6 separate regions of the Homo sapiens genome follow, and regions 1, 2, 4, 5 and 6 are each reported to be linked to region 3. Evidence: microRNA targets listed by miRTarBase, many of them from high-throughput screens and not tested one by one. Region 3 holds a microRNA gene; each other region holds the end of a gene's coding sequence.

Region 1 (4,092 bases), not on the chromosome of region 3:
GAGTATCAAGGTCTACAGGGGCCTGATCCCAGCATTTGCTTATCAAGTTGTGAAGTGACCATATGCAATGATGAAAAGGGACTTGTCCCTGTGGCCCCCCTCTTAGGGATAAAGGGCAGGAGAACCACTGTTGGTATTCTTTTGTTCCTGCGATGATGCTTTTTTCTTTCTTTCTTGGAGAGTTAATTGGTTTTGTGCCTGCCTTACAGATTTCCTTGTTCCCTTGCTGAGCTCTGTCTTAACTGTGGCTTGGATCTGTTGCTTGGTGACGGCCTTCTACTGGTGCCTGCGGAAGCGGCGGAAGCCGGGCAGCCACACACACTCAGCCTCTGAGGACAACACCACCAACAACGTGCGGGAGCAGCTGAACCAGATCAAAAACCCCATTGAGAAACATGGGGCCAACACGGTCCCCATCAAGGATTATGAGAACAAGAACTCCAAAATGTCTAAAATAAGGACACACAATTCTGAAGTAGAAGAGGACGACATGGACAAACACCAGCAGAAAGCCCGGTTTGCCAAGCAGCCGGCGTACACGCTGGTAGACAGAGAAGAGAAGCCCCCCAACGGCACGCCGACAAAACACCCAAACTGGACAAACAAACAGGACAACAGAGACTTGGAAAGTGCCCAGAGCTTAAACCGAATGGAGTACATCGTATAGCAGACCGCGGGCACTGCCGCCGCTAGGTAGAGTCTGAGGGCTTGTAGTTCTTTAAACTGTCGTGTCATACTCGAGTCTGAGGCCGTTGCTGACTTAGAATCCCTGTGTTAATTTAAGTTTTGACAAGCTGGCTTACACTGGCAATGGTAGTTTCTGTGGTTGGCTGGGAAATCGAGTGCCGCATCTCACAGCTATGCAAAAAGCTAGTCAACAGTACCCTGGTTGTGTGTCCCCTTGCAGCCGACACGGTCTCGGATCAGGCTCCCAGGAGCCTGCCCAGCCCCCTGGTCTTTGAGCTCCCACTTCTGCCAGATGTCCTAATGGTGATGCAGTCTTAGATCATAGTTTTATTTATATTTATTGACTCTTGAGTTGTTTTTGTATATTGGTTTTATGATGACGTACAAGTAGTTCTGTATTTGAAAGTGCCTTTGCAGCTCAGAACCACAGCAACGATCACAAATGACTTTATTATTTATTTTTTTTAATTGTATTTTTGTTGTTGGGGGAGGGGAGACTTTGATGTCAGCAGTTGCTGGTAAAATGAAGAATTTAAAGAAAAAAATGTCAAAAGTAGAACTTTGTATAGTTATGTAAATAATTCTTTTTTATTAATCACTGTGTATATTTGATTTATTAACTTAATAATCAAGAGCCTTAAAACATCATTCCTTTTTATTTATATGTATGTGTTTAGAATTGAAGGTTTTTGATAGCATTGTAAGCGTATGGCTTTATTTTTTTGAACTCTTCTCATTACTTGTTGCCTATAAGCCAAAATTAAGGTGTTTGAAAATAGTTTATTTTAAAACAATAGGATGGGCTTCTGTGCCCAGAATACTGATGGAATTTTTTTGTACGACGTCAGATGTTTAAAACACCTTCTATAGCATCACTTAAAACACGTTTTAAGGACTGACTGAGGCAGTTTGAGGATTAGTTTAGAACAGGTTTTTTTGTTTGTTTGTTTTTTGTTTTTCTGCTTTAGACTTGAAAAGAGACAGGCAGGTGATCTGCTGCAGAGCAGTAAGGGAACAAGTTGAGCTATGACTTAACATAGCCAAAATGTGAGTGGTTGAATATGATTAAAAATATCAAATTAATTGTGTGAACTTGGAAGCACACCAATCTTACTTTGTAAATTCTGATTTCTTTTCACCATTCGTACATAATACTGAACCACTTGTAGATTTGATTTTTTTTTTTAATCTACTGCATTTAGGGAGTATTCTAATAAGCTAGTTGAATACTTGAACCATAAAATGTCCAGTAAGATCACTGTTTAGATTTGCCATAGAGTACACTGCCTGCCTTAAGTGAGGAAATCAAAGTGCTATTACGAAGTTCAAGATCAAAAAGGCTTATAAAACAGAGTAATCTTGTTGGTTCACCATTGAGACCGTGAAGATACTTTGTATTGTCCTATTAGTGTTATATGAACATACAAATGCATCTTTGATGTGTTGTTCTTGGCAATAAATTTTGAAAAGTAATATTTATTAAATTTTTTTGTATGAAAACATGGAACAGTGTGGCCTCTTCTGAGCTTACGTAGTTCTACCGGCTTTGCCATGTGCTTCTGCCACCCTGCTGAGTCTGTTCTGGTAATCGGGGTATAATAGGCTCTGCCTGACAGAGGGATGGAGGAAGAACTGAAAGGCTTTTCAACCACAAAACTCATCTGGAGTTCTCAAAGACCTGGGGCTGCTGTGAAGCTGGAACTGCGGGAGCCCCATCTAGGGGAGCCTTGATTCCCTTGTTATTCAACAGCAAGTGTGAATACTGCTTGAATAAACACCACTGGATTAATGGCCTGTAGTGTCGAGGTGAATTGTTTGTGAGCAATCAGGGGAACTGGCCACAGCACTGAAAGGGTTTTAAAGGGTTTGGAATTGGTGTTGGGAAACGAGCAGGGAGATTTAATGTCTGCCTCTTTTTTTTCCCTGGCTACTTAGATTCATATTAATGTCCTGTTGTAAGGGTGTGGTCTGAAATGACTCTTGTGCACATTTACCCATGGGGTGGTTTCCTCACGGCACAGGAGGTGGTAGTTGCAAGCTTCTGGTGTTCGGGCTCATCACTCATCACCTTGTTCCCAGGGAATGAGTGTTCTGGCCTCACCATGCAGCCTTGGAGTGCTGGTGTTCTGGTCTTCTGTGAGGTTCCAGAGTTGGGCTGTCCCCACCTGTCACGGGCAGGAGAACTCTGGTTCTCTCACTTGTGGCTGGTGGAGGCCCTGCCCCCGCATCGCGTGGTGGGGTGTGGGAGAAGCTTTGCCTCTGGCACCTCTGCGGAAGGAATAAGCTGTGGTAACAAGCACATGGACAGCTTCCAGCAGCCGTGCAGAGTCACCAGGACTCTGCTTCTGGCTAGGAAAGCCAAAGCTCACCCTTCTCAGAGCCATCCCCCAGCACTTCAACATTCAGGCCTGTCCACCCACGTCCGGTTTTCATACAACTGGCACAGCAGACTTTGAATGGAGGAAAAGCTGATGGGGATGTTTTTCTTTGTTCTCGGGGAAACATTTTTTCTTCTAGGCTTGGAGTTGTGCTAAGGAACATCTTAAGAATGAAAGATGAGCTTTAAGTGTCCTGGGATCCTTGTGCATGAGCAGAGGCCATCGAGGGATTTGGGATTGTGACAACCCTAAGAGGGCCAACACTGTTTTGGCTCATTGGGGAGGTGGCCTGAAGGACCCGGACAGCGAAGAGTTGAGGTTTCCATGACATCTCCCTGCCCTAGCGTAGCTCCGCTTTCTCACCAATGTCTGCCAGTAGACAGCTGGGTTTCCACAAGGTGGGGTCAAAGGGAGGGAGAAATCTAGATCCTACTAGCCAGGAGACAGTCATTTCGCAGCAGTGGAGTCAAACACTATCCTGAAGCAAAACCTTGTTCTGGTGGTTTGTAAACTTGGATTCTGCAGGACCCCAGAATTCCTTGGGTAGCTGCCAGATGCTTTTGTGCCAAGAAAAAAAAAAAAAAAAGTTGAATGAGTCTCTGCAATTCTTTATTCCAGGAGGGAAGGGATCTTGGGATTCATGGGTGTTGTCTTAACTCACCTTCTGTCTGGGACACCCCTGGTATTGGGAGGGCATAGATCAGCCTCCTCTGGATGTGGCTCAGTGCCAGGACTTTAATTGTGAAGGGTGGATTTTCCCCTTCCTTCAGGAAGAAGGAAGCAGGCAATGGTGCTCTGGTTATCCTGGGGTTAGGAAAGTTGAGAGGAAGGGACTCAGTGCCTTTACCATTCATTCCCCAGGAACGCCCTGGGCTCTCTTTAAAGGGGCCCTGGAAGAAAAAATTTTCAGTCCAGAAACTTGGCTAACTAGAACTCTAGCATTAGAATATCCCATGAAACTCCAGGAAAGAACACTTAAAGCTGGTGTTTTTTTAGGATGGGAAGCTCTGTCCTGAGATTCTATACT
Region 2 (4,089 bases), not on the chromosome of region 3:
TAAGGAGAGTGCCTCTTAGGTTAGCATATGGGATATATTAGGACTAATAACTTAAGAATTCAGTTTAAATATTTTTCATTTGTATATGTTTCCTTGTAGCTGAAAGGAAGATGTATATTCATTGCTGATTTAAGTTGGAAAGATGTAAAATCTTCAGTATAATTAGCCATTTTAATAGCTAAGCTAAGCTAAACAAAGCAAATCAAATAAGAAAAATAGTACTCCTGTTATAAAGATTCTTGGAAGGAAAGTTACAAGTTACGGGTTTATAAACATTTTAGAATTACATCAAATAATAGTTAAGTAGTAATTTCAAAATGTTTTCTTCAGATATTCTTTCAGTCTGTGAGAAAAGGTTATTGAAAAGTTACAGTCATTTGTATTCTTTCATTTCTCATGTTAGTTGGAGCTAGTCTCTTAAAAATTTAATCTAAGTATACATGAAAATTTAAAAGATTCTTTTGAAGCCAACCATACGATCTTCTGGCAAAATGTTCCCTTGAGCATATGTAAATATTACAAAGTCAAAGGTGCTTGTTTATAGATATTTTTAGGTTGTAAAATATGAATGGTTAATGTGGAATTAGAAGTTGTACCAAATATTTAGTTGTTTATTTGTGTGAAATAGATATGGAAAAGTGATATATATGAAATAAGTTTTTCAGTTCCTGTAGTAGTAGTAAATAATATTAGATGATTATTAGGATGAATTTGATTGGAATCATTTGAAAGTTATGAATATGACAGTATACCTGAATTACACATGAATGCATAAAAATGATTATGTGATTTTTTTTTTATATTAGGTTTTGGATACTGAAAAGAAGTCATGTAAATAAAATAGACATAAAAAGGTAAAATTAGAATTTACCACATTTCTTTTTTTCTTGTCTGAACATCTCCAGAAGTTGGCATGCAACCTCAATAGGGTTCTCAAATAGAAGTATTTTTCTTCTTCCTCCGCCACTAAAAAAGAATTATAAAATATTTGATATATTTACATACCTATATGGATCTACATCAGCCTGCTTCCTTGTGTGGGCTTGTCTATCAGGTATATTTTTATTCTCCTCTTGTGTTTCTTTGTAGATTTACCAAATACGTATAATTCACAAAACAATATATTTAGTTTTGCTTATGTTTGGATTTTATCAGACTGTATCATACTCTCTGTATTAATTGATGACGTGGCTATTTTCACCCAACATTATTCATTCGTGTAGATGCATGCAGCTGTCATTCATTTTTACTCCTATATAACATTTCACTTTATGTTTATATTAGTTATTTGGTCATTCTACTATTAATGAATATTTAGGTTATTTTCAATTTTTAAAAATACTAACTCTTGTAAATATCCATATACATACTTCTTGGCATGAATGTGCACAAGTTATCCACAGTATGTGCCAAGGAGTAGAATCATATCATCATAAAATTTAATATAATATCAGTTTTTTTCTCAAGTAGTTATACCAGTTTATACTCCTACAAACTGTGTAGAAGAACTGTCATTCTACACTTGCCAGTACTTTATATTGTCAATACTTTAATTTCAACCAATTTAGTGGATGTAAAAATAGAATCTCGTAACTTAATTTGCATGAAGTGCAGCATCTTTTCTTATGCTTACTGGTTTTTGAGTTTCATCTTTGGTGAAATGCCTGTTAATGTCTTTGCCCATGTTTTTATTGGTCTGATTGTCCTTTATACATTGATTTCTATATATTCCTTATATAATTCTTTGTGAGGTATGTGTGGCAGGCCTTCTCCCATTTTGTGGACGGTCTTTTCGTTTTTTGTTTTTTTTTTTTGCGGCATCTCAGTGAGTAGAATTACTTATTTTGGGAATCTTTTTGTTTATGCCTACTTTTGTGTTTTGTGTCTCATTTAAGAAATTATTCCCTGTCATGAGGCTGTAAAGTAATTTAACTTTTTTTTTAAGTTTTGGAGCTTTGCTGTATACGTTTATATTTTAATCCATTGGGAATTGTATTAACAGTTGGTACAGTAATGGTGCTTAGCAAAAACAACTACAAGGTTCTCAGTAGTGAATAACACAAAGTGCTTATTTTTTATGCATATATAGATTGGCTGGGAGTTGGCTGATCTCATCTGGCCTTGGTTGGGTTGGCACTGTTTCATATGGCAGATCTGCTGGGTCAGTTCTGCCCATACTTATCTAACTCTCCTGGGACCAGTGGGCTAGCTAGGGCATGTTCTTCTCATGGTGTTGGCAGAAACTCAAGAGGGCAAAGCCCTGTTTACAGCACATTTACTTATAACCCATTGGCTAAAGTAAGTCATATGGCCAAGCCCAAAGTCAAGGAGAAGGAAACTGTACTCCACCTTTTGTACTTTACATGTGGGAGGAACTGGTAGAATGAATGAAAAAAGAGTATAACTGTAACTCTAGGGAGAAAAGAAAAAATAATACTAATAGACTTTTTTAAAATGGTATCAGATAGAGGCCTCATATCATTCTTATTTTTGTTGTTGTTGTTCCCTTTTTCCCACATGGATAACCAATCTCCCAAGCATTATTTAATTAAAAAGACTGCTCTTTCCCCCACTAACCTGTAATACCCCTTTTGGTATATGTCAAGTTTCCATCAAGTGAAGATCTGAAGGTCTGTTTCTGGGATGTCAGTTCTTCTCCATTTGTCTTTTTCTCCAGTATATACTATCTTAATTACCGTAGCAACACTTGTTACTGTCAGTCATTTTGATTATAGCTTTTCCAGTAGGAGTGATGCTGTATCTCACTGTAGTTGTAATTTTCATTTCTCAAATGACTATGAACATCTTTTCATGTGCTTATTGGCCATTAGTCAGTTTAGATCTCTGCCCATTTTAAAATTAGATTGTTTTCTTATTGAGTTTTAGGAGTTCTTTACGTATGTTGGATACAGATCCTTTATTAGATACATGATTTGCAAATATCCCAATCTGTGGCTTGTCTTATTTTATTAATGGTATCTTTTGAAGCATCAAAGTTTTCATTTTGATGTCGTACAGTTTATCAGTTTTCTCTTCTATGGATCATGCTTTCCGTGTTGTATCTAAGAATTTATTGCCTAACACAAAGTCACAAGATGTGCTCTTATGTTTTCTTCTAAAAATTTTCTAGTTTTAGCTCTTGTGTTTATGTCTATGATTCATTTTGAGTTAATTTTTAGGAATTGTGTGAGTTAAGGGCAAAACTTTTTTTTACATGTAGATGTCCAATTGTCCCAGCACTTTTTTTTTTTTTTTTGAGACAGAGTCTCACTCTGTTGCCAGACTGGAGTGCAGTGGTGCAGTCTCGGCTCACTGCAACCTCTGCCTCCCAGGTTCAAGTGATTCTCATGCCTCAGCATCCCGAGTAGCTGGAACTGTAGGTGTGTACCACCATGCCTCCTAATTTTTGTTATTTTTAGTAGAGACAGGCTTTCACTATGTTGGCCAGGTTGGTCTTGAACTCCTGACCTCAGGTGATCTGCCCACCTTGGCCTCCCAAATTCTGGGATTACAAAGGTGAGCCACTGTGCCTGGCCACCAGCACCATTTTAAAAAAAGACTGCCCCTTCCCCCTGACTTGCCTTCATGCCTTTGTCAAAAATCAGCTGACTATAAATGTATGGATTTATTTCTGTACTTAGTTGTGTTCCATTGACCTCTATATGTGTGTCCTTATACACTATCACAGTGTCTTGATTACTATAGCTTTGTTCTAAGTTTTGAAATAAGGAAGCGTAAGCTGTCTAGCTTTGTTCTACTTTTCAAAGATTGTTTTGGCTACTCTGGATCTTTTGCTTTTCCATATAAGTTTTAAGATCAGCTTGTACATTCTGCAAAAAACCCATGCTGAGATTTTGATAGGGATTGCATTGCATCTGTGGAAAATTGCACATAGAATTCTGATCTGTGAGCATGGAATGTCTCTCCATTTATTTAGATCTTCAGTTTCTCTCAGTTTTGTAATTTTCACTGTACAAGTGTACAGTGTACACTTTTTTGTTAATTTATTCGTACATATTCTGTTTGATGCTATTGAATGGAATTGTAATTTAAACTTTATTTTTAGTTGTTCATTGGTAGTATGTAGAA
Region 3 (4,092 bases):
CTAGGCCACACATATTTTTTGTCGTTATTTAAATTTTTAGTTGTACTACATAGAAAATAAACTCATTTTAAAAAGTTATTTCAGTAGGCAATGCATCTTCATGACTTTTACATATGAGTTTTATTTTTTATTACTTTTGAAGAAAAGTCTGTAGAAACCTACTTTTCAAGGCATCTGACCCAACCATTGCCTTGGATGGCAGCAATCCAGCTCAGGTAAGATATTTAAGATGCAACTAATAATCATAAAACATCAGTTGGGAAGAAGTGTTCGATATAGTATTGGGTAAAAGTGACTAACAATTTGGTAGAAGAGAATCATTTTTATAACTATCTCCTAACCAAGATTTCTCTAAGTCTGCATATTGTTAATGGAATGAAGACTATTTTGCTCCTAGTTTCATGTATGTATATTTAGGTGAATGTGAGTCATTTATGTAATGTGTGCTAAAACACCGTGCCCCTCACAAAGATAAGATGAATACAAAATACAGTTATTGTAGATGGCTTGTCTTTCACAATTTAATTCTACGAGTTAATTTTTACAATTAACATTTTCTGTGCTACATATTTTGTATTTTGGTTTCTTTCCCTTCACTATGGGGTGTACAGAACAAAGTATGCATTTGGAAAAAAAGTGCTGTCTTTCATATGCAAAGAAAATGCTATAACTTATTCAAACATCCTTGGGCAGTTCTTTAGTTGTTTTAATAGTGTGAGTTTGTAGTTTGTATTGAATGATCCAGATGACCTGCCCCTGTTCATGTTACTTGTGGCATCTATGAGACCATTTGCTGGTTTTAGGGAATCAATCTATAGGTGGGAAGTTTTCTTTTGCAGAAACTAATTTAGAACTAAGCCTTTGGTGTCAGCAATGGGTGCTCTATACTGGATGCATGAAGACCATATTTCTAGGGGAGGCTGCTTCCAGCTGAATTTCACAAGGTGAGGATAAAGAGAACATTCCTTATCCTCTCCTGATTAATTCATTAAAGGCAAAGGAGGGGAAGGAAAGTTATTAGCAGAGATCTCCCAGAAGTCCTCTGTAACTGTCCCTTTTGCCCAACTGTCACAAGATACTGTTTTTCTGGCATCCACAGCCCTAACCCTGAATATCCAAATGTACTCGTGCATCAAGGATCTACTCAAGTCTCACCTCCTCTGGGAACCTTCTTTGACCTATTACAGCTCTCATTGAGGACCTCCCTTCTATTTCTGATACAAATAGTTTCTACTATTCTAAATAGTCCCTAGTTTAGTAATTTATTATATATATACTGTCTTGAATGGTATGGCCTTGATCTCAAGAGGACCACGATTTGATGTAACTAACAAGCTGCCTGGCTCACTATTTGACTAGAAGGCCCAGGCTTCACATCACTGCATGGCCCTCTAAGAGTATAAGGCCAAGTCCCCAACAGAGCACAGAGGTGCAGATGAGACTCTCCAAGCCATCCTCCCATATGTCAGAGGCTACCCAAGCCCACCTCCATTTGGAAAATTCAAACCTATAATTTGAGGTACCTGGGAAGCCGCTTTCCCAGGGCGGAATGGTCACGGAAACTGGGTAGGCTGGGGGCCTTCTTGGGGAATGAGGGAGTGGAGGAGCTCTTTGTCCCTCCTGCTAGATCAGAAAGAGAAACGTCTCAAGAATCTGGGCCTCCATCTTCTAGGCGTCTCCCTTGGAGGCCCTTCAGGGACCGCCCACAGCGCTTTCTCTCAGCCTCCTCCCCCCCCCCATCCCCTCCCCCACCCGCCCCGTCTCGCGCCCGCCCCGCCCCTCGGCCCGCGGGGTTCCAAGGACGGTTGGTCGCCCCCGCCACAGTCACTCGGCCGCTCAGAGCGGCGGGGCGCACGGGGTCGAGAGAGCCAGCTCTAGGGTTTGGGGCTGGGAACTGAAGCCTGGCGTGAAGGAAGTGGGAGCCCGGGCCGAGGAGGCGAAGGGGAAAGGAAAAGCGAGGGGAACCTGAGCGGGAGGGCCCTGAGAGGAGCGGGAGGCTGCGGGAAGGGGAGGCCTGGCACTCCTGGGGGTCATGGGGGTCGGGGCGCGGCTCCCGGCCTGGGAGGGCGCGGGTCCTCCCCGGCAGCGCCGCCCGCTGGCCCAGCTACGCGTGTTGTGCGCTGCGAGGCCGGCGGGGGTCCCGCTGGGCCCGGGGGTGTCCTCGGGGGCCGCTTGCGCCCAGCCATGGTAGGGCGTCCCCCGGTGAAATGGGGTCCGAGGCGGGCCCCGACCCCGCGTCGGCGCTGCGGACCGTCCGGGAGCTGCAGCCGCGGGTGCCCGGTGCTCGGTTTGTAGGCAGTGTCATTAGCTGATTGTACTGTGGTGGTTACAATCACTAACTCCACTGCCATCAAAACAAGGCACAGCATCACCGCCGCCCGGCCGGGAAGAAGACGCCGGCTCGGGCAGCCCGCAGCCTTCGAGAGAAGATGCCTGAGAAGCGCGGCGTCGGCGTGGGTCCTGCGCAGCCTGCCCCGCGAGCGCCCGCTGCAAGTGCGAGGAAACCCGCGGTTTCTCCAGATACAGTTAAACTGTTAGCTCTCTCTAGGAGTCACAGAAGATGAAACAGTCTCATGCCAGGAAAGCAAAATCCCTGGAGGTGAAGCCCCTCCATCCATGTAACGGTTAATACTGTATGCTGTGATTCACTGTGTCTATTTGCCATCGTCTAGTAGAGTATTCACCAAGCTAGCAACTCAGTTGAGCTCCAACTCAACCAATGAATTGCCTGCCTGTCACAACGTGTTGGGGTACCAACTTGAGACTGCAATTTTTTCTATGAGTCTAGTTACTAGGCAGTGTAGTTAGCTGATTGCTAATAGTACCAATCACTAACCACACGGCCAGGTAAAAAGATTTGGGAATTCGTCCAAATGAGCTGCCTGTGCATCATCAATGTGCGTGGGGAAGAGGGGTGTTGGAAAATGCTGATTTCATCCATTGCCTATTAATTGCTCAGCCAAAAGAAAAAAATCAACATTTCAGCTACTAAGTTTACAATGTATGTAATGTGTATGTATGTGGGGTTTTGTTTTGTTTTTTTTTCAATATTCCTTCAGGCTCTTAACCAAAATTTTAGATATAAGGGGGAATATGATTTTTTTCTTAGCTGACTGATGTATGTTATTATATGAACATGTGATTATTAACTTCTTGAGACTATATTGTTAGTAATATTTTGAAAGTAATATTGTTAGTAATATTTCGAAAGAATAAAGTGCCATAAAGACATAAATTGTGGTTATTGCTATGTGTCCATTTCCTTTGCTAAATTGACTTTATGATGTCCATCTCAGTTCCTGCCACAGTAATCTTAACTTTTCTATCAATGAAGTGGTTAAGTTGTTCCTGCCATGACAAAAATCTCCCGGGAAAGCTACTCATACACACAGACTTGTTAATACTTTTATAAGAAATACATTAACAAAATTTTTCATACTTCTTTTTTCCATGAAGAGACTCTGTTCACTCATTAAGATGTATCCCTTCTTTTAAGTAATCATTTACAACTGTTGGAGTCTATGCAACTTTTAGTGGGAGTGATTAGTAAATGCACTTACACTTTAAATCCAGCTTGTTTCCTAAGATTTAAAGGATTCAGAATTTTAAAATCACAGAAACTGTACACATGGGCACGTATCCGCCCAGTTCAGGCCTCTAGCTCCCAAGGGCTAGGCTTTCAGGCGTGAATTCTCCAGCGCAACGTTCTCAGAACTTCCACCTAGCAGGTGCTGTCCCTGGCAATCTGGTTTGGAAGTGGGGATTGGGGCAATGGGGCTGAGGAATTTAAAGTTTATTTAGCTATCTTTCTGGGGGGAGGGGAGAGGATGTGGCAGCCCACTGAGGATATAAGAAGCTAAACTACTCCCCCACTGACTCCGACAGGACACAACCCAAAGTTGACGTTTTGACTCTCCCATATCCAAGATTTGGACTGGTCCTAAAACCTGATCACCGCAGGGGTGGGCTTCCGACGGCCCCCACGCGCGTGGCGGATCCCAACACCTACCTAGGAAACCGAGGGCAGCCGGCAGGGGCTGGTACCAACTTGGCGGTTCTCGGAGGGGCGGGGCAGGGGCGGGGCGGGGGGAG
Region 4 (4,092 bases), not on the chromosome of region 3:
CCTTTCTGCCAATACAGTGTCTCTCTTGTATTTCTAGATCAAGGCAAAGAGGACACTTTGATAGTTCTCCCCACACTTGTGTGTCCATGATTGTGTGTGTGTGTGTGTGTGTGTGTGTGTGTGTGTATGTTGTGGGTGGATAATATGTAAATGCAAGAACTGTGATGTACTCAACTCAGGGTCCAGAGGGTGCTGCAGTGTGGTGTTTCTCAAAGTGCATCTATGGCTTGTCAGGTTAGGGAGAGAAGGCAGCACTCGGGACCTTGTCCATTTATTCTGAAAGGAATACATGTAAAATAGTCCCATAGGGGTGTCAGAAAGCTTGGCCTTAAGGTCAAAAGAGCACACCCTGAATACAGGTTTGCGCGTTTGCTGGTGTGTGAGCTAACAAATGCCACTCTCACACGGTTTCTTTCAGTCCCACTGTGGAGCTTCCCTGAGGGTGCCCGGGCAAGTCTTGCCAGCAAGGCAGCAAGACTTCCTGCTATCCAAGCCCATGGAGGAAAGTTACTGCTGAGGACCCACCCAATGGAAGGATTCTTCTCAGCCTTGACCCTGGAGCACTGGGAACAACTGGTCTCCTGTGATGGCTGGGACTCCTCGCGGGAGGGGACTGCGCTGCTATAGCTCTTGCTGCCTCTCTTGAATAGCTCTAACTCCAAACCTCTGTCCACACCTCCAGAGCACCAAGTCCAGATTTGTGTGTAAGCAGCTGGGTGCCTGGGGCCTCTCGTGCACACTGGATTGGTTTCTCAGTTGCTGGGCGAGCCTGTACTCTGCCTGACGAGGAACGCTGGCTCCGAAGAGGCCCTGTGTAGAAGGCTGTCAGCTGCTCAGCCTGCTTTGAGCCTCAGTGAGAAGTCCTTCCGACAGGAGCTGACTCATGTCAGGATGGCAGGCCTGGTATCTTGCTCGGGCCCTAGCTGTTGGGGTTCTCATGGGTTGCACTGACCATACTGCTTACGTCTTAGCCATTCCGTCCTGCTCCCCAGCTCACTCTCTGAAGCACACATCATTGGCTTTCCTATTTTTCTGTTCATTTTTTAATTGAGCAAATGTCTATTGAACACTTAAAATTAATTAGAATGTGGTAATGGACATATTACTGAGCCTCTCCATTTGGAACCCAGTGGAGTTGGGATTTCTAGACCCTCTTTCTGTTTGGATGGTGTATGTGTATATGCATGGGGAAAGGCACCTGGGGCCTGGGGGAGGCTATAGGATATAAGCATTAGGGACCCTGAGGCTTTAAGTGGTTTCTATTTCTTCTTAGTTATTATGTGCCACCTTCTTAGTTATTATGTGCCACCTCCCCTATGAGTGACGTGTTTGATCACTAGCAGAATAGCAAGCAGAGTATCATTCATGCTGGGGCCAGAATGATGGCCGGTTGCCAGATATAACTGCTTTGGAGCAAATCTCTTCTGTTTAGAGAGATAGAAGTTATGACATATGTAATACACATCTGTGTACACAGAAACCGGCACCTGCCAGACAGAGCTGGTTCTAAGATTTAATACAGTGCTTTTTTTCCTCTTTGAAATATTTTACTTTAATACCAGTGCCTTTTCTTGTTGAACTTCTTGGAAAAGCCACCAATTCTAGATCTTGATTTGAATTAATACACACAATATCTGAGACACTTACACTTTTCAAAAGATTTGTGTATGCATTGCCTAATTAGAGTAGGGGGAGAAGGGCAACTATTATTATCCCTATTTTACAAAACTGAGGCTTAGTGAGGTTCAGCCACATGCCTAGACTTATATACTAGTTAGTGGTGCAGCCAGGGAGAGGACTCAGATTTCCTGGAGGCAAAGTCTATCTCTGAAACTCCATGAAGACTTTTGCAGCCAGTTCCCACCAATATGCCCCAGACGTGAGACAAACAAGGACTTTTTTTTTTATATAGAGCCATCCATAAAATCCTAAGCCCTTTTATTAATGTATAACCAGGAGAACATCTGTGCCAACGGTTGGACTTTTTATGGCTGAGATTCGGGAGGAAGTGTGACACCAAGCAGGAGAGGAAGAATGATTTTCTTTGTACTTAGGTTTTCTAAGGACATTGTTTTAATCTGTATCGTGCCAAAGTTGTATCACTGTTAAACTTCTGAAGACATAACCAGTTGAGTCTTATTTCAAGATATGTTCTCAAGCCAATTGTGTGCTTCTCTTGTTTCTGTGATTGCTTTCTAGCCAAAGCGAAGCTTGTACAGGTTGAGTATCCCTTATCCAAAATGCTTGGAACCAGAAGTGTTTCAAATTTTAGATTATTTTCAGATTTTGGAATGTTTGCATATACATAATGAGATATTTTGGGAATAGGACCCGAGCCTAAACACAAAATTCATTGATGTGTCAGTTACACCTTATCCACATAGCCTGAGGGTAATTTTATACGATATTTTAAATAGTTGTGTACATGAAGCATGGTTTGTGGTAACTTATGTGAGGGGTTTTCCCATTTTTTGTCTTGTTGGTGCTCAAAAAGTTTTGGATTTTGGAGCATTTCGGATTTTGGATTTTTGGATTAGGGTTGCTCAACCCATATTATTGGCTGTACATCCTGGTCACTTCTGACTTCTGTTTTTACTAATGGAAGCTTTGCAAATTGAATTCTCAGTGAGTTGTATATTTATACACCTGGCTTGAAGCCTTAATTGTATATAATGATGCTTTTTAAAAAATGCTATTTGGAAGACTATTTATTTCTCGTGTATATAATGTATATAAAAAAATATGGTTAGTGTTTACCTAAGGTTAACCAATTTCAAGATTAAAATTTTTAAATAGTAAAATAATAAAAAATTATAAAGTTCTTAATGGTCTGACAACTCAATTTTTTTTTTTTTTTTTTTTTTTTTTGAGACAGAGCCTCTCTCTGTCACCCAGGCTGGAGTGCAGTGGCAATCTTGGCTCACTACAACCTCTGCCTCCTGGGCTCAGGTGGTCCTCCCACCTCAGCCTTCTGAGTAGCTGGGATTACAGAGATGCGTCACCATGTCTGGCTAATTTTTGTATTTTTAGTAGAGATGGGGTTTCGCCATGTTGGCCAGGCTGGTCAGGCTGGGTTCGAACTCCTGGCCTCAAGTGATCCGCCTGCCTCAGCCTCTGAAAGTTCTGAGATTATAGGTGTGAGCCACCGTGCCTGGCCAATTCTTAAAGTTTGAAAGAATATAGCTGCCCCAACCTAGAGTCTGACAAAAAGTTACTCTAATATAAGGCATATTCTTTATTTGACACTCATCGTTAGCAGAAGTGGACAGCAATTCACTAAAGAACCAGAACAAGAACATCATTTCACTGAAGACGAGAAGAAAAATTATTTCAATTGTAGCAGCTTGAAGGCCTGAAGGTGGATGTTAGGAAGAACAGGGAGCATGGCTGGACACTGGGGAGCATTAGTGAGATTATTAGGTTTGGTTGAATTGGAACTAGATATCAGTGACTTAGACCAGAGGGAAGCTGATTTCTCTATTGGTTAAAGTCCCAGCTGGTAGTAAGGTTCTATTCTACAGGCCAAGAGGGCTGCAGGTTCTTAGTTTTTCACTGTGCCATTCATGGGGTATTCCTCGCATCCCCACAGCCCAGGGGTCCCCTACCAGCCAATGGAAAGCCAGAAAAGGGAAGGGATGAACAGTCTCCTCTTAAAGACATGACTGAGAAGTTGCTTACATTCTATTGGCCAGAAATAAATCCATGGTCACATGACAGGCTGGGAAATACAGTCTTTATTTAGGGTGCCCATGGGCCCTGCTGAAGATCCAATTACTATTTATTTAAAATTGACATATAATAATTGTACATATTTGTGGGGAAAATAGTGATGTTTCGATACATACAAGGTATAGTGATCATGTTGGAATAATTAGCATACCCATCCTTTCAAACATGTATCATTTCTTTGTGTTGGGAACATTCAATATCCTCCTTCTAGTTACTTGAAACCATATTTTATTAACTCTAGTTTTACCCTTCAGTGGTATAGGACACTAGAATTTATTCCTCCTGTCTAGCTGTAATCTTGTTTGTTTCGTTTGGTGTTTTTTGTTTTTTTGTTTTTTTTTGAGATGGAGTCTTGCTCTGTAG
Region 5 (4,092 bases), not on the chromosome of region 3:
AGTCTCCCAAAGTTCCAGGATTACAAGGCATGAGTCACTGCACCCAGCCTCATTTTTTAATTAAGTTAAAATTTCTGAGCATTCTTTAATAATAAAATTATTTTATTTATCTCCAGGAATCCATCAACAGCATCAAGTCCAGACTAAGCAAAAGTGGGCACATACAAACTCTGCTTAGAGCATTTGAAGCTCGTGATCGAAACATACAAGAAAGCAACTTTGATAGAGTCAATTTCTGGTCTATGGTTAATTTAGTGGTCATGGTGGTGGTGTCAGCCATTCAAGTTTATATGCTGAAGAGTCTGTTTGAAGATAAGAGGAAAAGTAGAACTTAAAACTCCAAACTAGAGTACGTAACATTGAAAAATGAGGCATAAAAATGCAATAAACTGTTACAGTCAAGACCATTAATGGTCTTCTCCAAAATATTTTGAGATATAAAAGTAGGAAACAGGTATAATTTTAATGTGAAAATTAAGTCTTCACTTTCTGTGCAAGTAATCCTGCTGATCCAGTTGTACTTAAGTGTGTAACAGGAATATTTTGCAGAATATAGGTTTAACTGAATGAAGCCATATTAATAACTGCATTTTCCTAACTTTGAAAAATTTTGCAAATGTCTTAGGTGATTTAAATAAATGAGTATTGGGCCTAATTGCAACACCAGTCTGTTTTTAACAGGTTCTATTACCCAGAACTTTTTTGTAAATGCGGCAGTTACAAATTAACTGTGGAAGTTTTCAGTTTTAAGTTATAAATCACCTGAGAATTACCTAATGATGGATTGAATAAATCTTTAGACTACAAAAGCCCAACTTTTCTCTATTTACATATGCATCTCTCCTATAATGTAAATAGAATAATAGCTTTGAAATACAATTAGGTTTTTGAGATTTTTATAACCAAATACATTTCAGTGTAACATATTAGCAGAAAGCATTAGTCTTTGTACTTTGCTTACATTCCCAAAAGCTGACATTTTCACGATTCTTAAAAACACAAAGTTACACTTACTAAAATTAGGACATGTTTTCTCTTTGAAATGAAGAATATAGTTTAAAAGCTTCCTCCTCCATAGGGACACATTTTCTCTAACCCTTAACTAAAGTGTAGGATTTTAAAATTAAATGTGAGGTAAAATAAGTTTATTTTTAATAGTATCTGTCAAGTTAATATCTGTCAACAGTTAATAATCATGTTATGTTAATTTTAACATGATTGCTGACTTGGATAATTCATTATTACCAGCAGTTATGAAGGAAATATTGCTAAAATGATCTGGGCCTACCATAAATAAATATCTCCTTTTCTGAGCTCTAAGAATTATCAGAAACAGGAAAGAATTTAGAAAAACTTGAGAAAACCTAATCCAAAATAAAATTCACTTAAGTAGAACTATAAATAAATATCTAGAATCTGACTGGCTCATCATGACATCCTACTCATAACATAAATCAAAGGAGATGATTAATTTCCAGTTAGCTGGAAGAAACTTTGGCTGTAGGTTTTTATTTTCTACAAGAATTCTGGTTTGAATTATTTTTGTAAGCAGGTACATTTTATAAAATGTAAGCCCTACTGTAAGGTTTAGCACTGGGTGTACATATTTATTAAAAATTTTTATTATAACAACTTTTATTAAAATGGCCTTTCTGAACACTTTATTTATTGATGTTGAAGTAAGGATTAGAAACATAGACTCCCAAGTTTTAAACACCTAAATGTGAATAACCCATATATACAACAAAGTTTCTGCCATCTAGCTTTTTGAAGTCTATGGGGGTCTTACTCAAGTACTAGTAATTTAACTTCATCATGAATGAACTATAATTTTTAAGTTATGCCCATTTATAACGTTGTTTATGACTACATTGTGAGTTAGAAACAAACTTAAAATTTGGGGTATAGAACCCCTCAACAGGTTAGTAATGCTGGAATTCTTGATGAGCAATAATGATAACCAGAGAGTGATTTCATTTACACTCATAGTAGTATAAAAAGAGATACATTTCCCTCTTAGGCCCCTGGGAGAAGAGCAGCTTAGATTTCCCTACTGGCAAGGTTTTTAAAAATGAGGTAAATGCCGTATATGATCAATTACCTTAATTGGCCAAGAAAATGCTTCAGGTGTCTAGGGGTATCCTCTGCAACACTTGCAGAACAAAGGTCAATAAGATCCTTGCCTATGAATACCCCTCCCTTTTGCGCTGTTAAATTTGCAATGAGAAGCAAATTTACAGTACCATAACTAATAAAGCAGGGTACAGATATAAACTACTGCATCTTTTCTATAAAACTGTGATTAAGAATTCTACCTCTCCTGTATGGCTGTTACTGTACTGTACTCTCTGACTCCTTACCTAACAATGAATTTGTTACATAATCTTCTACATGTATGATTTGTGCCACTGATCTTAAACCTATGATTCAGTAACTTCTTACCATATAAAAACGATAATTGCTTTATTTGGAAAAGAATTTAGGAATACTAAGGACAATTATTTTTATAGACAAAGTAAAAAGACAGATATTTAAGAGGCATAACCAAAAAAGCAAAACTTGTAAACAGAGTAAAAATCTTTAATATTTCTAAAGACATACTGTTTATCTGCTTCATATGCTTTTTTTAATTTCACTATTCCATTTCTAAATTAAAGTTATGCTAAATTGAGTAAGCTGTTTATCACTTAACAGCTCATTTTGTCTTTTTCAATATACAAATTTTAAAAATACTACAATATTTAACTAAGGCCCAACCGATTTCCATAATGTAGCAGTTACCGTGTTCACCTCACACTAAGGCCTAGAGTTTGCTCTGATATGCATTTGGATGATTAATGTTATGCTGTTCTTTCATGTGAATGTCAAGACATGGAGGGTGTTTGTAATTTTATGGTAAAATTAATCCTTCTTACACATAATGGTGTCTTAAAATTGACAAAAAATGAGCACTTACAATTGTATGTCTCCTCAAATGAAAATTCTTTATCTGAAATTTTAAAAGACATTGATTCCACATGTAAGGATTTTTCATCTGAAGTACAATAATGCACAATCAGTGTTGCTCAAACTGCTTTATACTTATAAACAGCCATCTTAAATAAGCAACGTATTGTGAGTACTGATATGTATATAATAAAAATTATCAAAGAAAATTAACTGCCAGTCATTTGTAAATGCTGTCTACTCCTGAAAGCCTTCCTTCATCTCTATTTAGTTAATAATGTGCTCTCTCCTCCTGTTTTGAAACCCCATAGCTCTCTACACCTCTTATTGTACATCACTCTACTTTGCATTGGAGTTCTGTTTCTATATGTACTTATTCACCTGTTGCCTAAACATGCACTGTTCCTAAAAGGTACAGTTTTTGCTCAAAATATATGAAAGGAAAGATAATCAGTTCTTAAAGTTTGGTATGCTAAATAAGCACCCAGGGAACTTACCTGCTCCACCTCACCCCAGAAATTGATTATTCAGGTCTGGAATATGGCTCAGGATTCTTAATTTTCAACCAACACAATATAGAATCCTGTCAGTTATCCTTGGATCATTTGCTAAGTGATCTTGCAAAATCAAAACTCCTTTGAGACTATTTCATTTTCAGAAATATTTTAAAACTTGTTCAGAAACATCTTAAAACTTGTTAGCATATAGGAAAAGTACAATGCTTGGTGTAGGTAGGTTATTATTTGGTCATTTCCCTCAAACCATCCAGACAAGCCACTCTTCTACCACAAGCTGGTAGAAATCCTTAGGCACCTTTCTGCTTCTGCACTGCTATCACTTTCAGGTGTCTAAGGCTTCTGGAAGGCTGTTGTCATAACCTGGAGCCATACACCTAATGTACGTCTGGGGAAAGGACACCAATTAAAGAATCTAGAGCTAGGATGATGTTACATAAGACAGGGCACAATGGAGATGGACTCTGGATCCCTGCATCTGAAAGAAAAAGGCAAGAAAATGCAGGGCAGGGAAAATCCTGAAGGTCTTCACTGACCATGAATTAAAATCCTAATTGACAGTTTTACAAACAAAAACCCTCGTTTTAGTACTTGTGTTGTTTTTGTTTCTGTTTTAACAAGCTTAGATTTA
Region 6 (4,092 bases), not on the chromosome of region 3:
ATACAACCACCAATCTTCACAAAATAATTTTAATACTTTGTGCCTGGGCTAGCAGCATCTTGCACTGTGACATTCCTATACAGACATAAGCATTTTATCCAAGTACAAATGTTAAAAGCAGAGTAACTTAAGCAATTGTGTATACAAAGGTATACAGACACTGTAGGTTATTTTTCTTCTTGAATCATTTTTGCTGCATAGTAAATTGCAATTACATGTCAGTATAATGTTACTGATCTATAGAATACACTTTGAACTGTGAGGTATGGCAGCTCCCTATGAGAGAGAGCTAACATGTAAACCTGAATATTTTGAGTGATTTTTGTTTTAGCTGCCACAGATGGGAAAGACAAAAAAAAAAAAAAAAATTCCAGCATTCAAAGACCCTAGAGACTTACTTTTCTAATCAATTAAAAAAAAAGGTCTTTCAGTACTTCTCATCTATTTTCTAGCATTCCCTTATCGGAGCACTGTTGAACAAAGAAAGAAAGAAAATACTGAGGTGAAGCTATGTTTGTTATGGGATTATGGATTAAATCAGTTATTTAAAAAAAAAAAAATCCGCCAGGTAACTGCTCATTTACTTTACATCAAGTTGAGATCTTGATACATATATATATATATCTCAACTTTATAATTCAAGATTGCAGTTAAATATTTCTAATTCACTTGAATTACCATATTAATAAGACAATTAGAAACCTTATATTTTCTTAATACAGACATGCTTAACATTTTCTGACATTACTTCTAAACTCAGATGAAGCATAAACTCTCCCCAAAACTGCTCTAAAAGTTAAGTGGTTGAGTTGGTAGCAAAAGCTATCATGGTTTAACATTTCCACCACAGAGTAGATACAAGTAAAGGTCACTGCAGTTTAAACATCTAACAGGTAAGAAATTAACATGAACCAACTAACTGAAATTAGAATACTGCCATTCCATGTTTGAATATTTTCAATACTCAAGTTTCATATTTTCAAAATGGACAGTAATACAGTTTCCCTATGTTTTGATACAATTTCACTATAAATTATGGGCCCAGATTACACTTTTAATGTTGGAATTGGGTGGTCACTCATACATTATTTAAATACTCTAGAAGATAAATCATGATCAGTTAAATTTATCATAGTTAACTATCACAAAACATCAGTGGTAATAAAAGAATCACAGAAATGGAATCAAATAGAATAAAGAATAGGAAGAGCTACCAGAACTACTTAAACATTAGGTGGACAGACATGCAAGAAAAAACAAACCTGTAATGTTCTTATATGAAATAATAAACTTCATGGTTTGTCTACATTAATATTGTACTCAGCCAGGCGCAGTGGCTCACGCCTGTAATCCCAGCACTTTGGGAGGCCGAGGTGGGTGGATCACTTGAGGTCAGGAGTTTGAGACCAGCCTGGCCAACATGGTGAAACCCCATCTCTACTAAAACTACAAAAATTAGCCAGGCATGGTGGCATGTGCCTCTAACCCCAGCTACTTGGGAGGCTGAGGCAGGAAAATCACTTGAACCCAGGAGGTGGAGGTTGCAGTGAGCCAAGATTGTGCCACTGTACTCCAGCCTGGGTGACATTAGAGACTCTGTCTCAAAAAAAAAAAAAAATCTATCTATCTATATATATATATATACACACAGAGTACTCAAGATGATGACAGTCCCTTTTCCCAGTGTTTGTGAGAGACTGTAATATACAGTACTGGGCAGGCACTTCAGTGACAACATAAAAATTACAGTGGATAGAAAATGTGGAAAATTACCAGCTACAAATTATCAATAACAAAATCTGTTCTTTTGGCCAGACTACTAGAGAGGATATATGTATATTTATGAAACAAGTTTTTAAAACCTAAACTTACTATTATGAAGATTCTTTTAAGCAGAGTTTCTGCTAAATGAAGCATCATAGATTATTATTACACTGTAAGAGATCTTTGCTGACCTGCCCAATAGTGATCTATATACAGGAAAGCTGTGTTATCTGGAACTTTTATCAACTGGAATTTTAGAAAACCCAATGCGAATCTTGACTCCACTAGACCACTGTACATCAAAAGACCTAATCACAAAGCAGAATACTGGACGACAACGAGATTAACAATATGCTGTTTTCACAGTGGTAAGATAAGAGAAGGGAAGGGGAGGGAAATCAGAAGAGAAATATCACCTGGGTCAATAGGAATTAACTCTTAATTAACAATTTTAATTAATCTCCACTCTCCCACTATGCTGGGTAAGAAAGCTTTTACTGTATTATCACATCATAGAGAGGAAAGCAAAGCAAGTAACTTGGTGTAATAGGTTACTTTGCATAGTACCTCTTGGTACCAAGGGAACATACAGAAATCATTCCCATTAGTAAAGCACCTCAAGAGAGGATTGAGAAAAGTTAGATACAAAGGAGTTTTGTTTGTGCTACCCTAAAGTCATCAACTATAAAAAGTTAAAAACACTCCTCTCTTCCCTTACATACTTAAAATAGCAAAAATGTTTTCTTAGAACTTTTATACACACAAACTAAAACATAGCCAAAAATCCATAAAGTGACTTTACTAAAGCAAATTATGGGGCAGATCTGGACTAACTGAATGTCAAGAATGGATTAAAATGCTAATTTAAAATACACTAGTCTCCCACAAATCACCTTCCCCAAAGAAAAGCTTCTGTTTGAGCCGGAACAATCTCACAGAATCATTAAGACAACATAAAAAGAAAGAGTAAACATTCTATATTCCAAATAATTTACTAATATTTCTTCCAGCCTCGTACTTTCAGTTTAAACTAATTTATGGTTTAAAAAGAAAGGAAATTACACAAAAATGTTAAGAACTTTTCAGTGTTCTACATACTAATTTAGAGGCCATGAGGATTTAATTATTTTTTTTAAATGATGCAAGGCACTTTTCTTTTTTGGGGCTTCATTTAGAAAAAAATAATGCTACATTGGTTTATTAGATTCTATTTAGAATCATTTTGGACAAAGGAAAAAAGGGCTGGACAACTCTGAAAAGAACAAATACAACGTTTGGCTTTTACTGCCAAAAAATGCAAAAAGGAAAGTCACTCGAAAATCTAACACTATCCTTGTGTTTAAGCACTTGGTACTATAAATCAAAACGTTTTCCTTTTATCATGGAAACTGTAGTTTTTAAAATATAGAAAAATTAGGAAAGTAATAAGAAAGGAAGCAATAATTAGATCAAGTTAAAGTAAGGACAGCTAATTAGGATCATGATTTAAAGATTAATAATGGAAGAAGTATAAAAAATAAAATGGTAATTAAGCTATTAAGTTATACTAAAAAAGAAATGTGGCAGATTCCTGCATTTTGTTAATGTTTCTGTAAGAGGCTCCATCATAAAATTGAACTGTAAAATTATGTTAAAAATGTAATATATAGAACAGAAAAATGAATTTTTAGCAAACCTTAGCAAATTTTGTTATAAATTACCCAAACTTTATAAACAATCCCCCCATACTTGCATTTTGTTTAAAGTAATAACTTTATATCATACAAATAAATTTCAAGTATGAAAAGTGCATTATTGCAATAATACCTCTTTGCAAGTCCAAAATTCTTGGTTTATAATAAAACTTGTAAAGCATGTGTGTGTGCGCGCGCATGTGTTTTTAAAAAAAGGAGTAAAACCATCAGTGTCATCTATTGCAGAAGTCCAACATCTTAAAATGTTGCTCAACAAGTTGCAGAGAAGTATGTCTGGAAGCAACATGTAATTGAAAAAAAAACTACTTATGTTTTTACCATTTTACATTATAATTTTCTCTTGTATTTTCTCCTTCCCAAATAGAAATTCACACTCTATGATGTTGCTCTTCAAGTCAGCCATTCTGTGCAGTCGCCACTTGCATGGTTCCAAAATCATCCTCTTCTTCATGTGTTCTCTTCAAACTGCCTAAAAGTTATTGCATGAAGATTAAAAGGGCACTAAAATAAATTCATGTTAAAAGGTTACAGCAAGTAAAATTTTGTTATTAAGTGATCATGTATACACTATGAAAATTCCACAACTGATATAGCAAAATTTAGTAAATTCCTTTGTGATAAATTACCTAAATAT

What was found. Region 3 holds the annotated microRNA hsa-miR-34b-3p (CAAUCACUAACUCCACUGCCAU, at 2,330-2,351, shown strand). A microRNA usually pairs through its seed, bases 2 to 8, with sites in the 3' UTR of a target mRNA and lowers its output. Matches are read on the target gene's strand: a 7mer-m8 pairs with bases 2 to 8, a 7mer-A1 pairs with bases 2 to 7 and ends in A, and an 8mer does both.
Region 1: the mRNA of JAG1 is a reported target of hsa-miR-34b-3p. The part of its 3' UTR that is shown has no 7-base or 8-base seed match.
Region 2: miRTarBase lists ZC3H8 as a target of hsa-miR-34b-3p. The part of its 3' UTR that is shown has no 7-base or 8-base seed match.
Region 4: the mRNA of LIPG is a reported target of hsa-miR-34b-3p. The part of its 3' UTR that is shown has no 7-base or 8-base seed match.
Region 5: the mRNA of TMED5 is a reported target of hsa-miR-34b-3p. Seed matches in the 3' UTR shown: 7mer-m8 at 1,967-1,973 and 7mer-A1 at 2,299-2,305.
Region 6: the mRNA of STYX is a reported target of hsa-miR-34b-3p. Seed matches in the 3' UTR shown: 7mer-A1 at 2,074-2,080 and 7mer-m8 at 1,516-1,522.

The regions. Positions count from the first base shown.
Region 1 is chr20:10,636,073-10,640,164 of GRCh38, reverse strand. JAG1 (jagged canonical Notch ligand 1) reads left to right here. Exons shown (of 26, transcript NM_000214.3): 26 at 210-2,481. The coding sequence ends at 667. Among named protein-coding and RNA genes, the nearest start is that of MIR6870, 12 kb to the left of the region's middle. RefSeq lists enhancers at 1,842-2,638, 2,639-3,435.
Region 2 is chr2:112,227,668-112,231,756 of GRCh38, reverse strand. ZC3H8 (zinc finger CCCH-type containing 8) reads left to right here. Exons shown (of 9, transcript NM_032494.3): 8 at 807-854. The coding sequence ends at 839. It also overlaps a transcript of FBLN7 not described here. Among named protein-coding and RNA genes, the nearest start is that of ZC3H8, 25 kb to the left of the region's middle.
Region 3 is chr11:111,510,658-111,514,749 of GRCh38, forward strand. MIR34B (microRNA 34b) reads left to right here and starts at 2,281; the gene lies at 2,281-2,364. BTG4 (BTG anti-proliferation factor 4) reads right to left here and starts at 1,729. Exons shown (of 5, transcript NM_001367975.1): 1 at 1,524-1,729. MIR34BHG (MIR34B and MIR34C host gene) reads left to right here. Exons shown (of 2, transcript NR_147706.1): 1 at 1-215; 2 at 2,361-3,231. MIR34C (microRNA 34c) reads left to right here and starts at 2,782; the gene lies at 2,782-2,858. RefSeq lists an enhancer at 1-584.
Region 4 is chr18:49,590,083-49,594,174 of GRCh38, forward strand. It overlaps LIPG (lipase G, endothelial type), which reads left to right. Exons shown (of 10, transcript NM_006033.4): 10 at 419-4,092. The coding sequence ends at 440. Among named protein-coding and RNA genes, the nearest start is that of LIPG, 30 kb to the left of the region's middle.
Region 5 is chr1:93,150,913-93,155,004 of GRCh38, reverse strand. TMED5 (transmembrane p24 trafficking protein 5) reads left to right here. Exons shown (of 4, transcript NM_016040.5): 4 at 117-4,092. The coding sequence ends at 335. Among named protein-coding and RNA genes, the nearest start is that of TMED5, 27 kb to the left of the region's middle.
Region 6 is chr14:52,770,868-52,774,959 of GRCh38, reverse strand. It overlaps STYX (serine/threonine/tyrosine interacting protein), which reads right to left. Exons shown (of 11, transcript NM_145251.4): 11 at 1-3,927. The coding sequence ends at 3,854. Among named protein-coding and RNA genes, the nearest start is that of GNPNAT1, 19 kb to the left of the region's middle.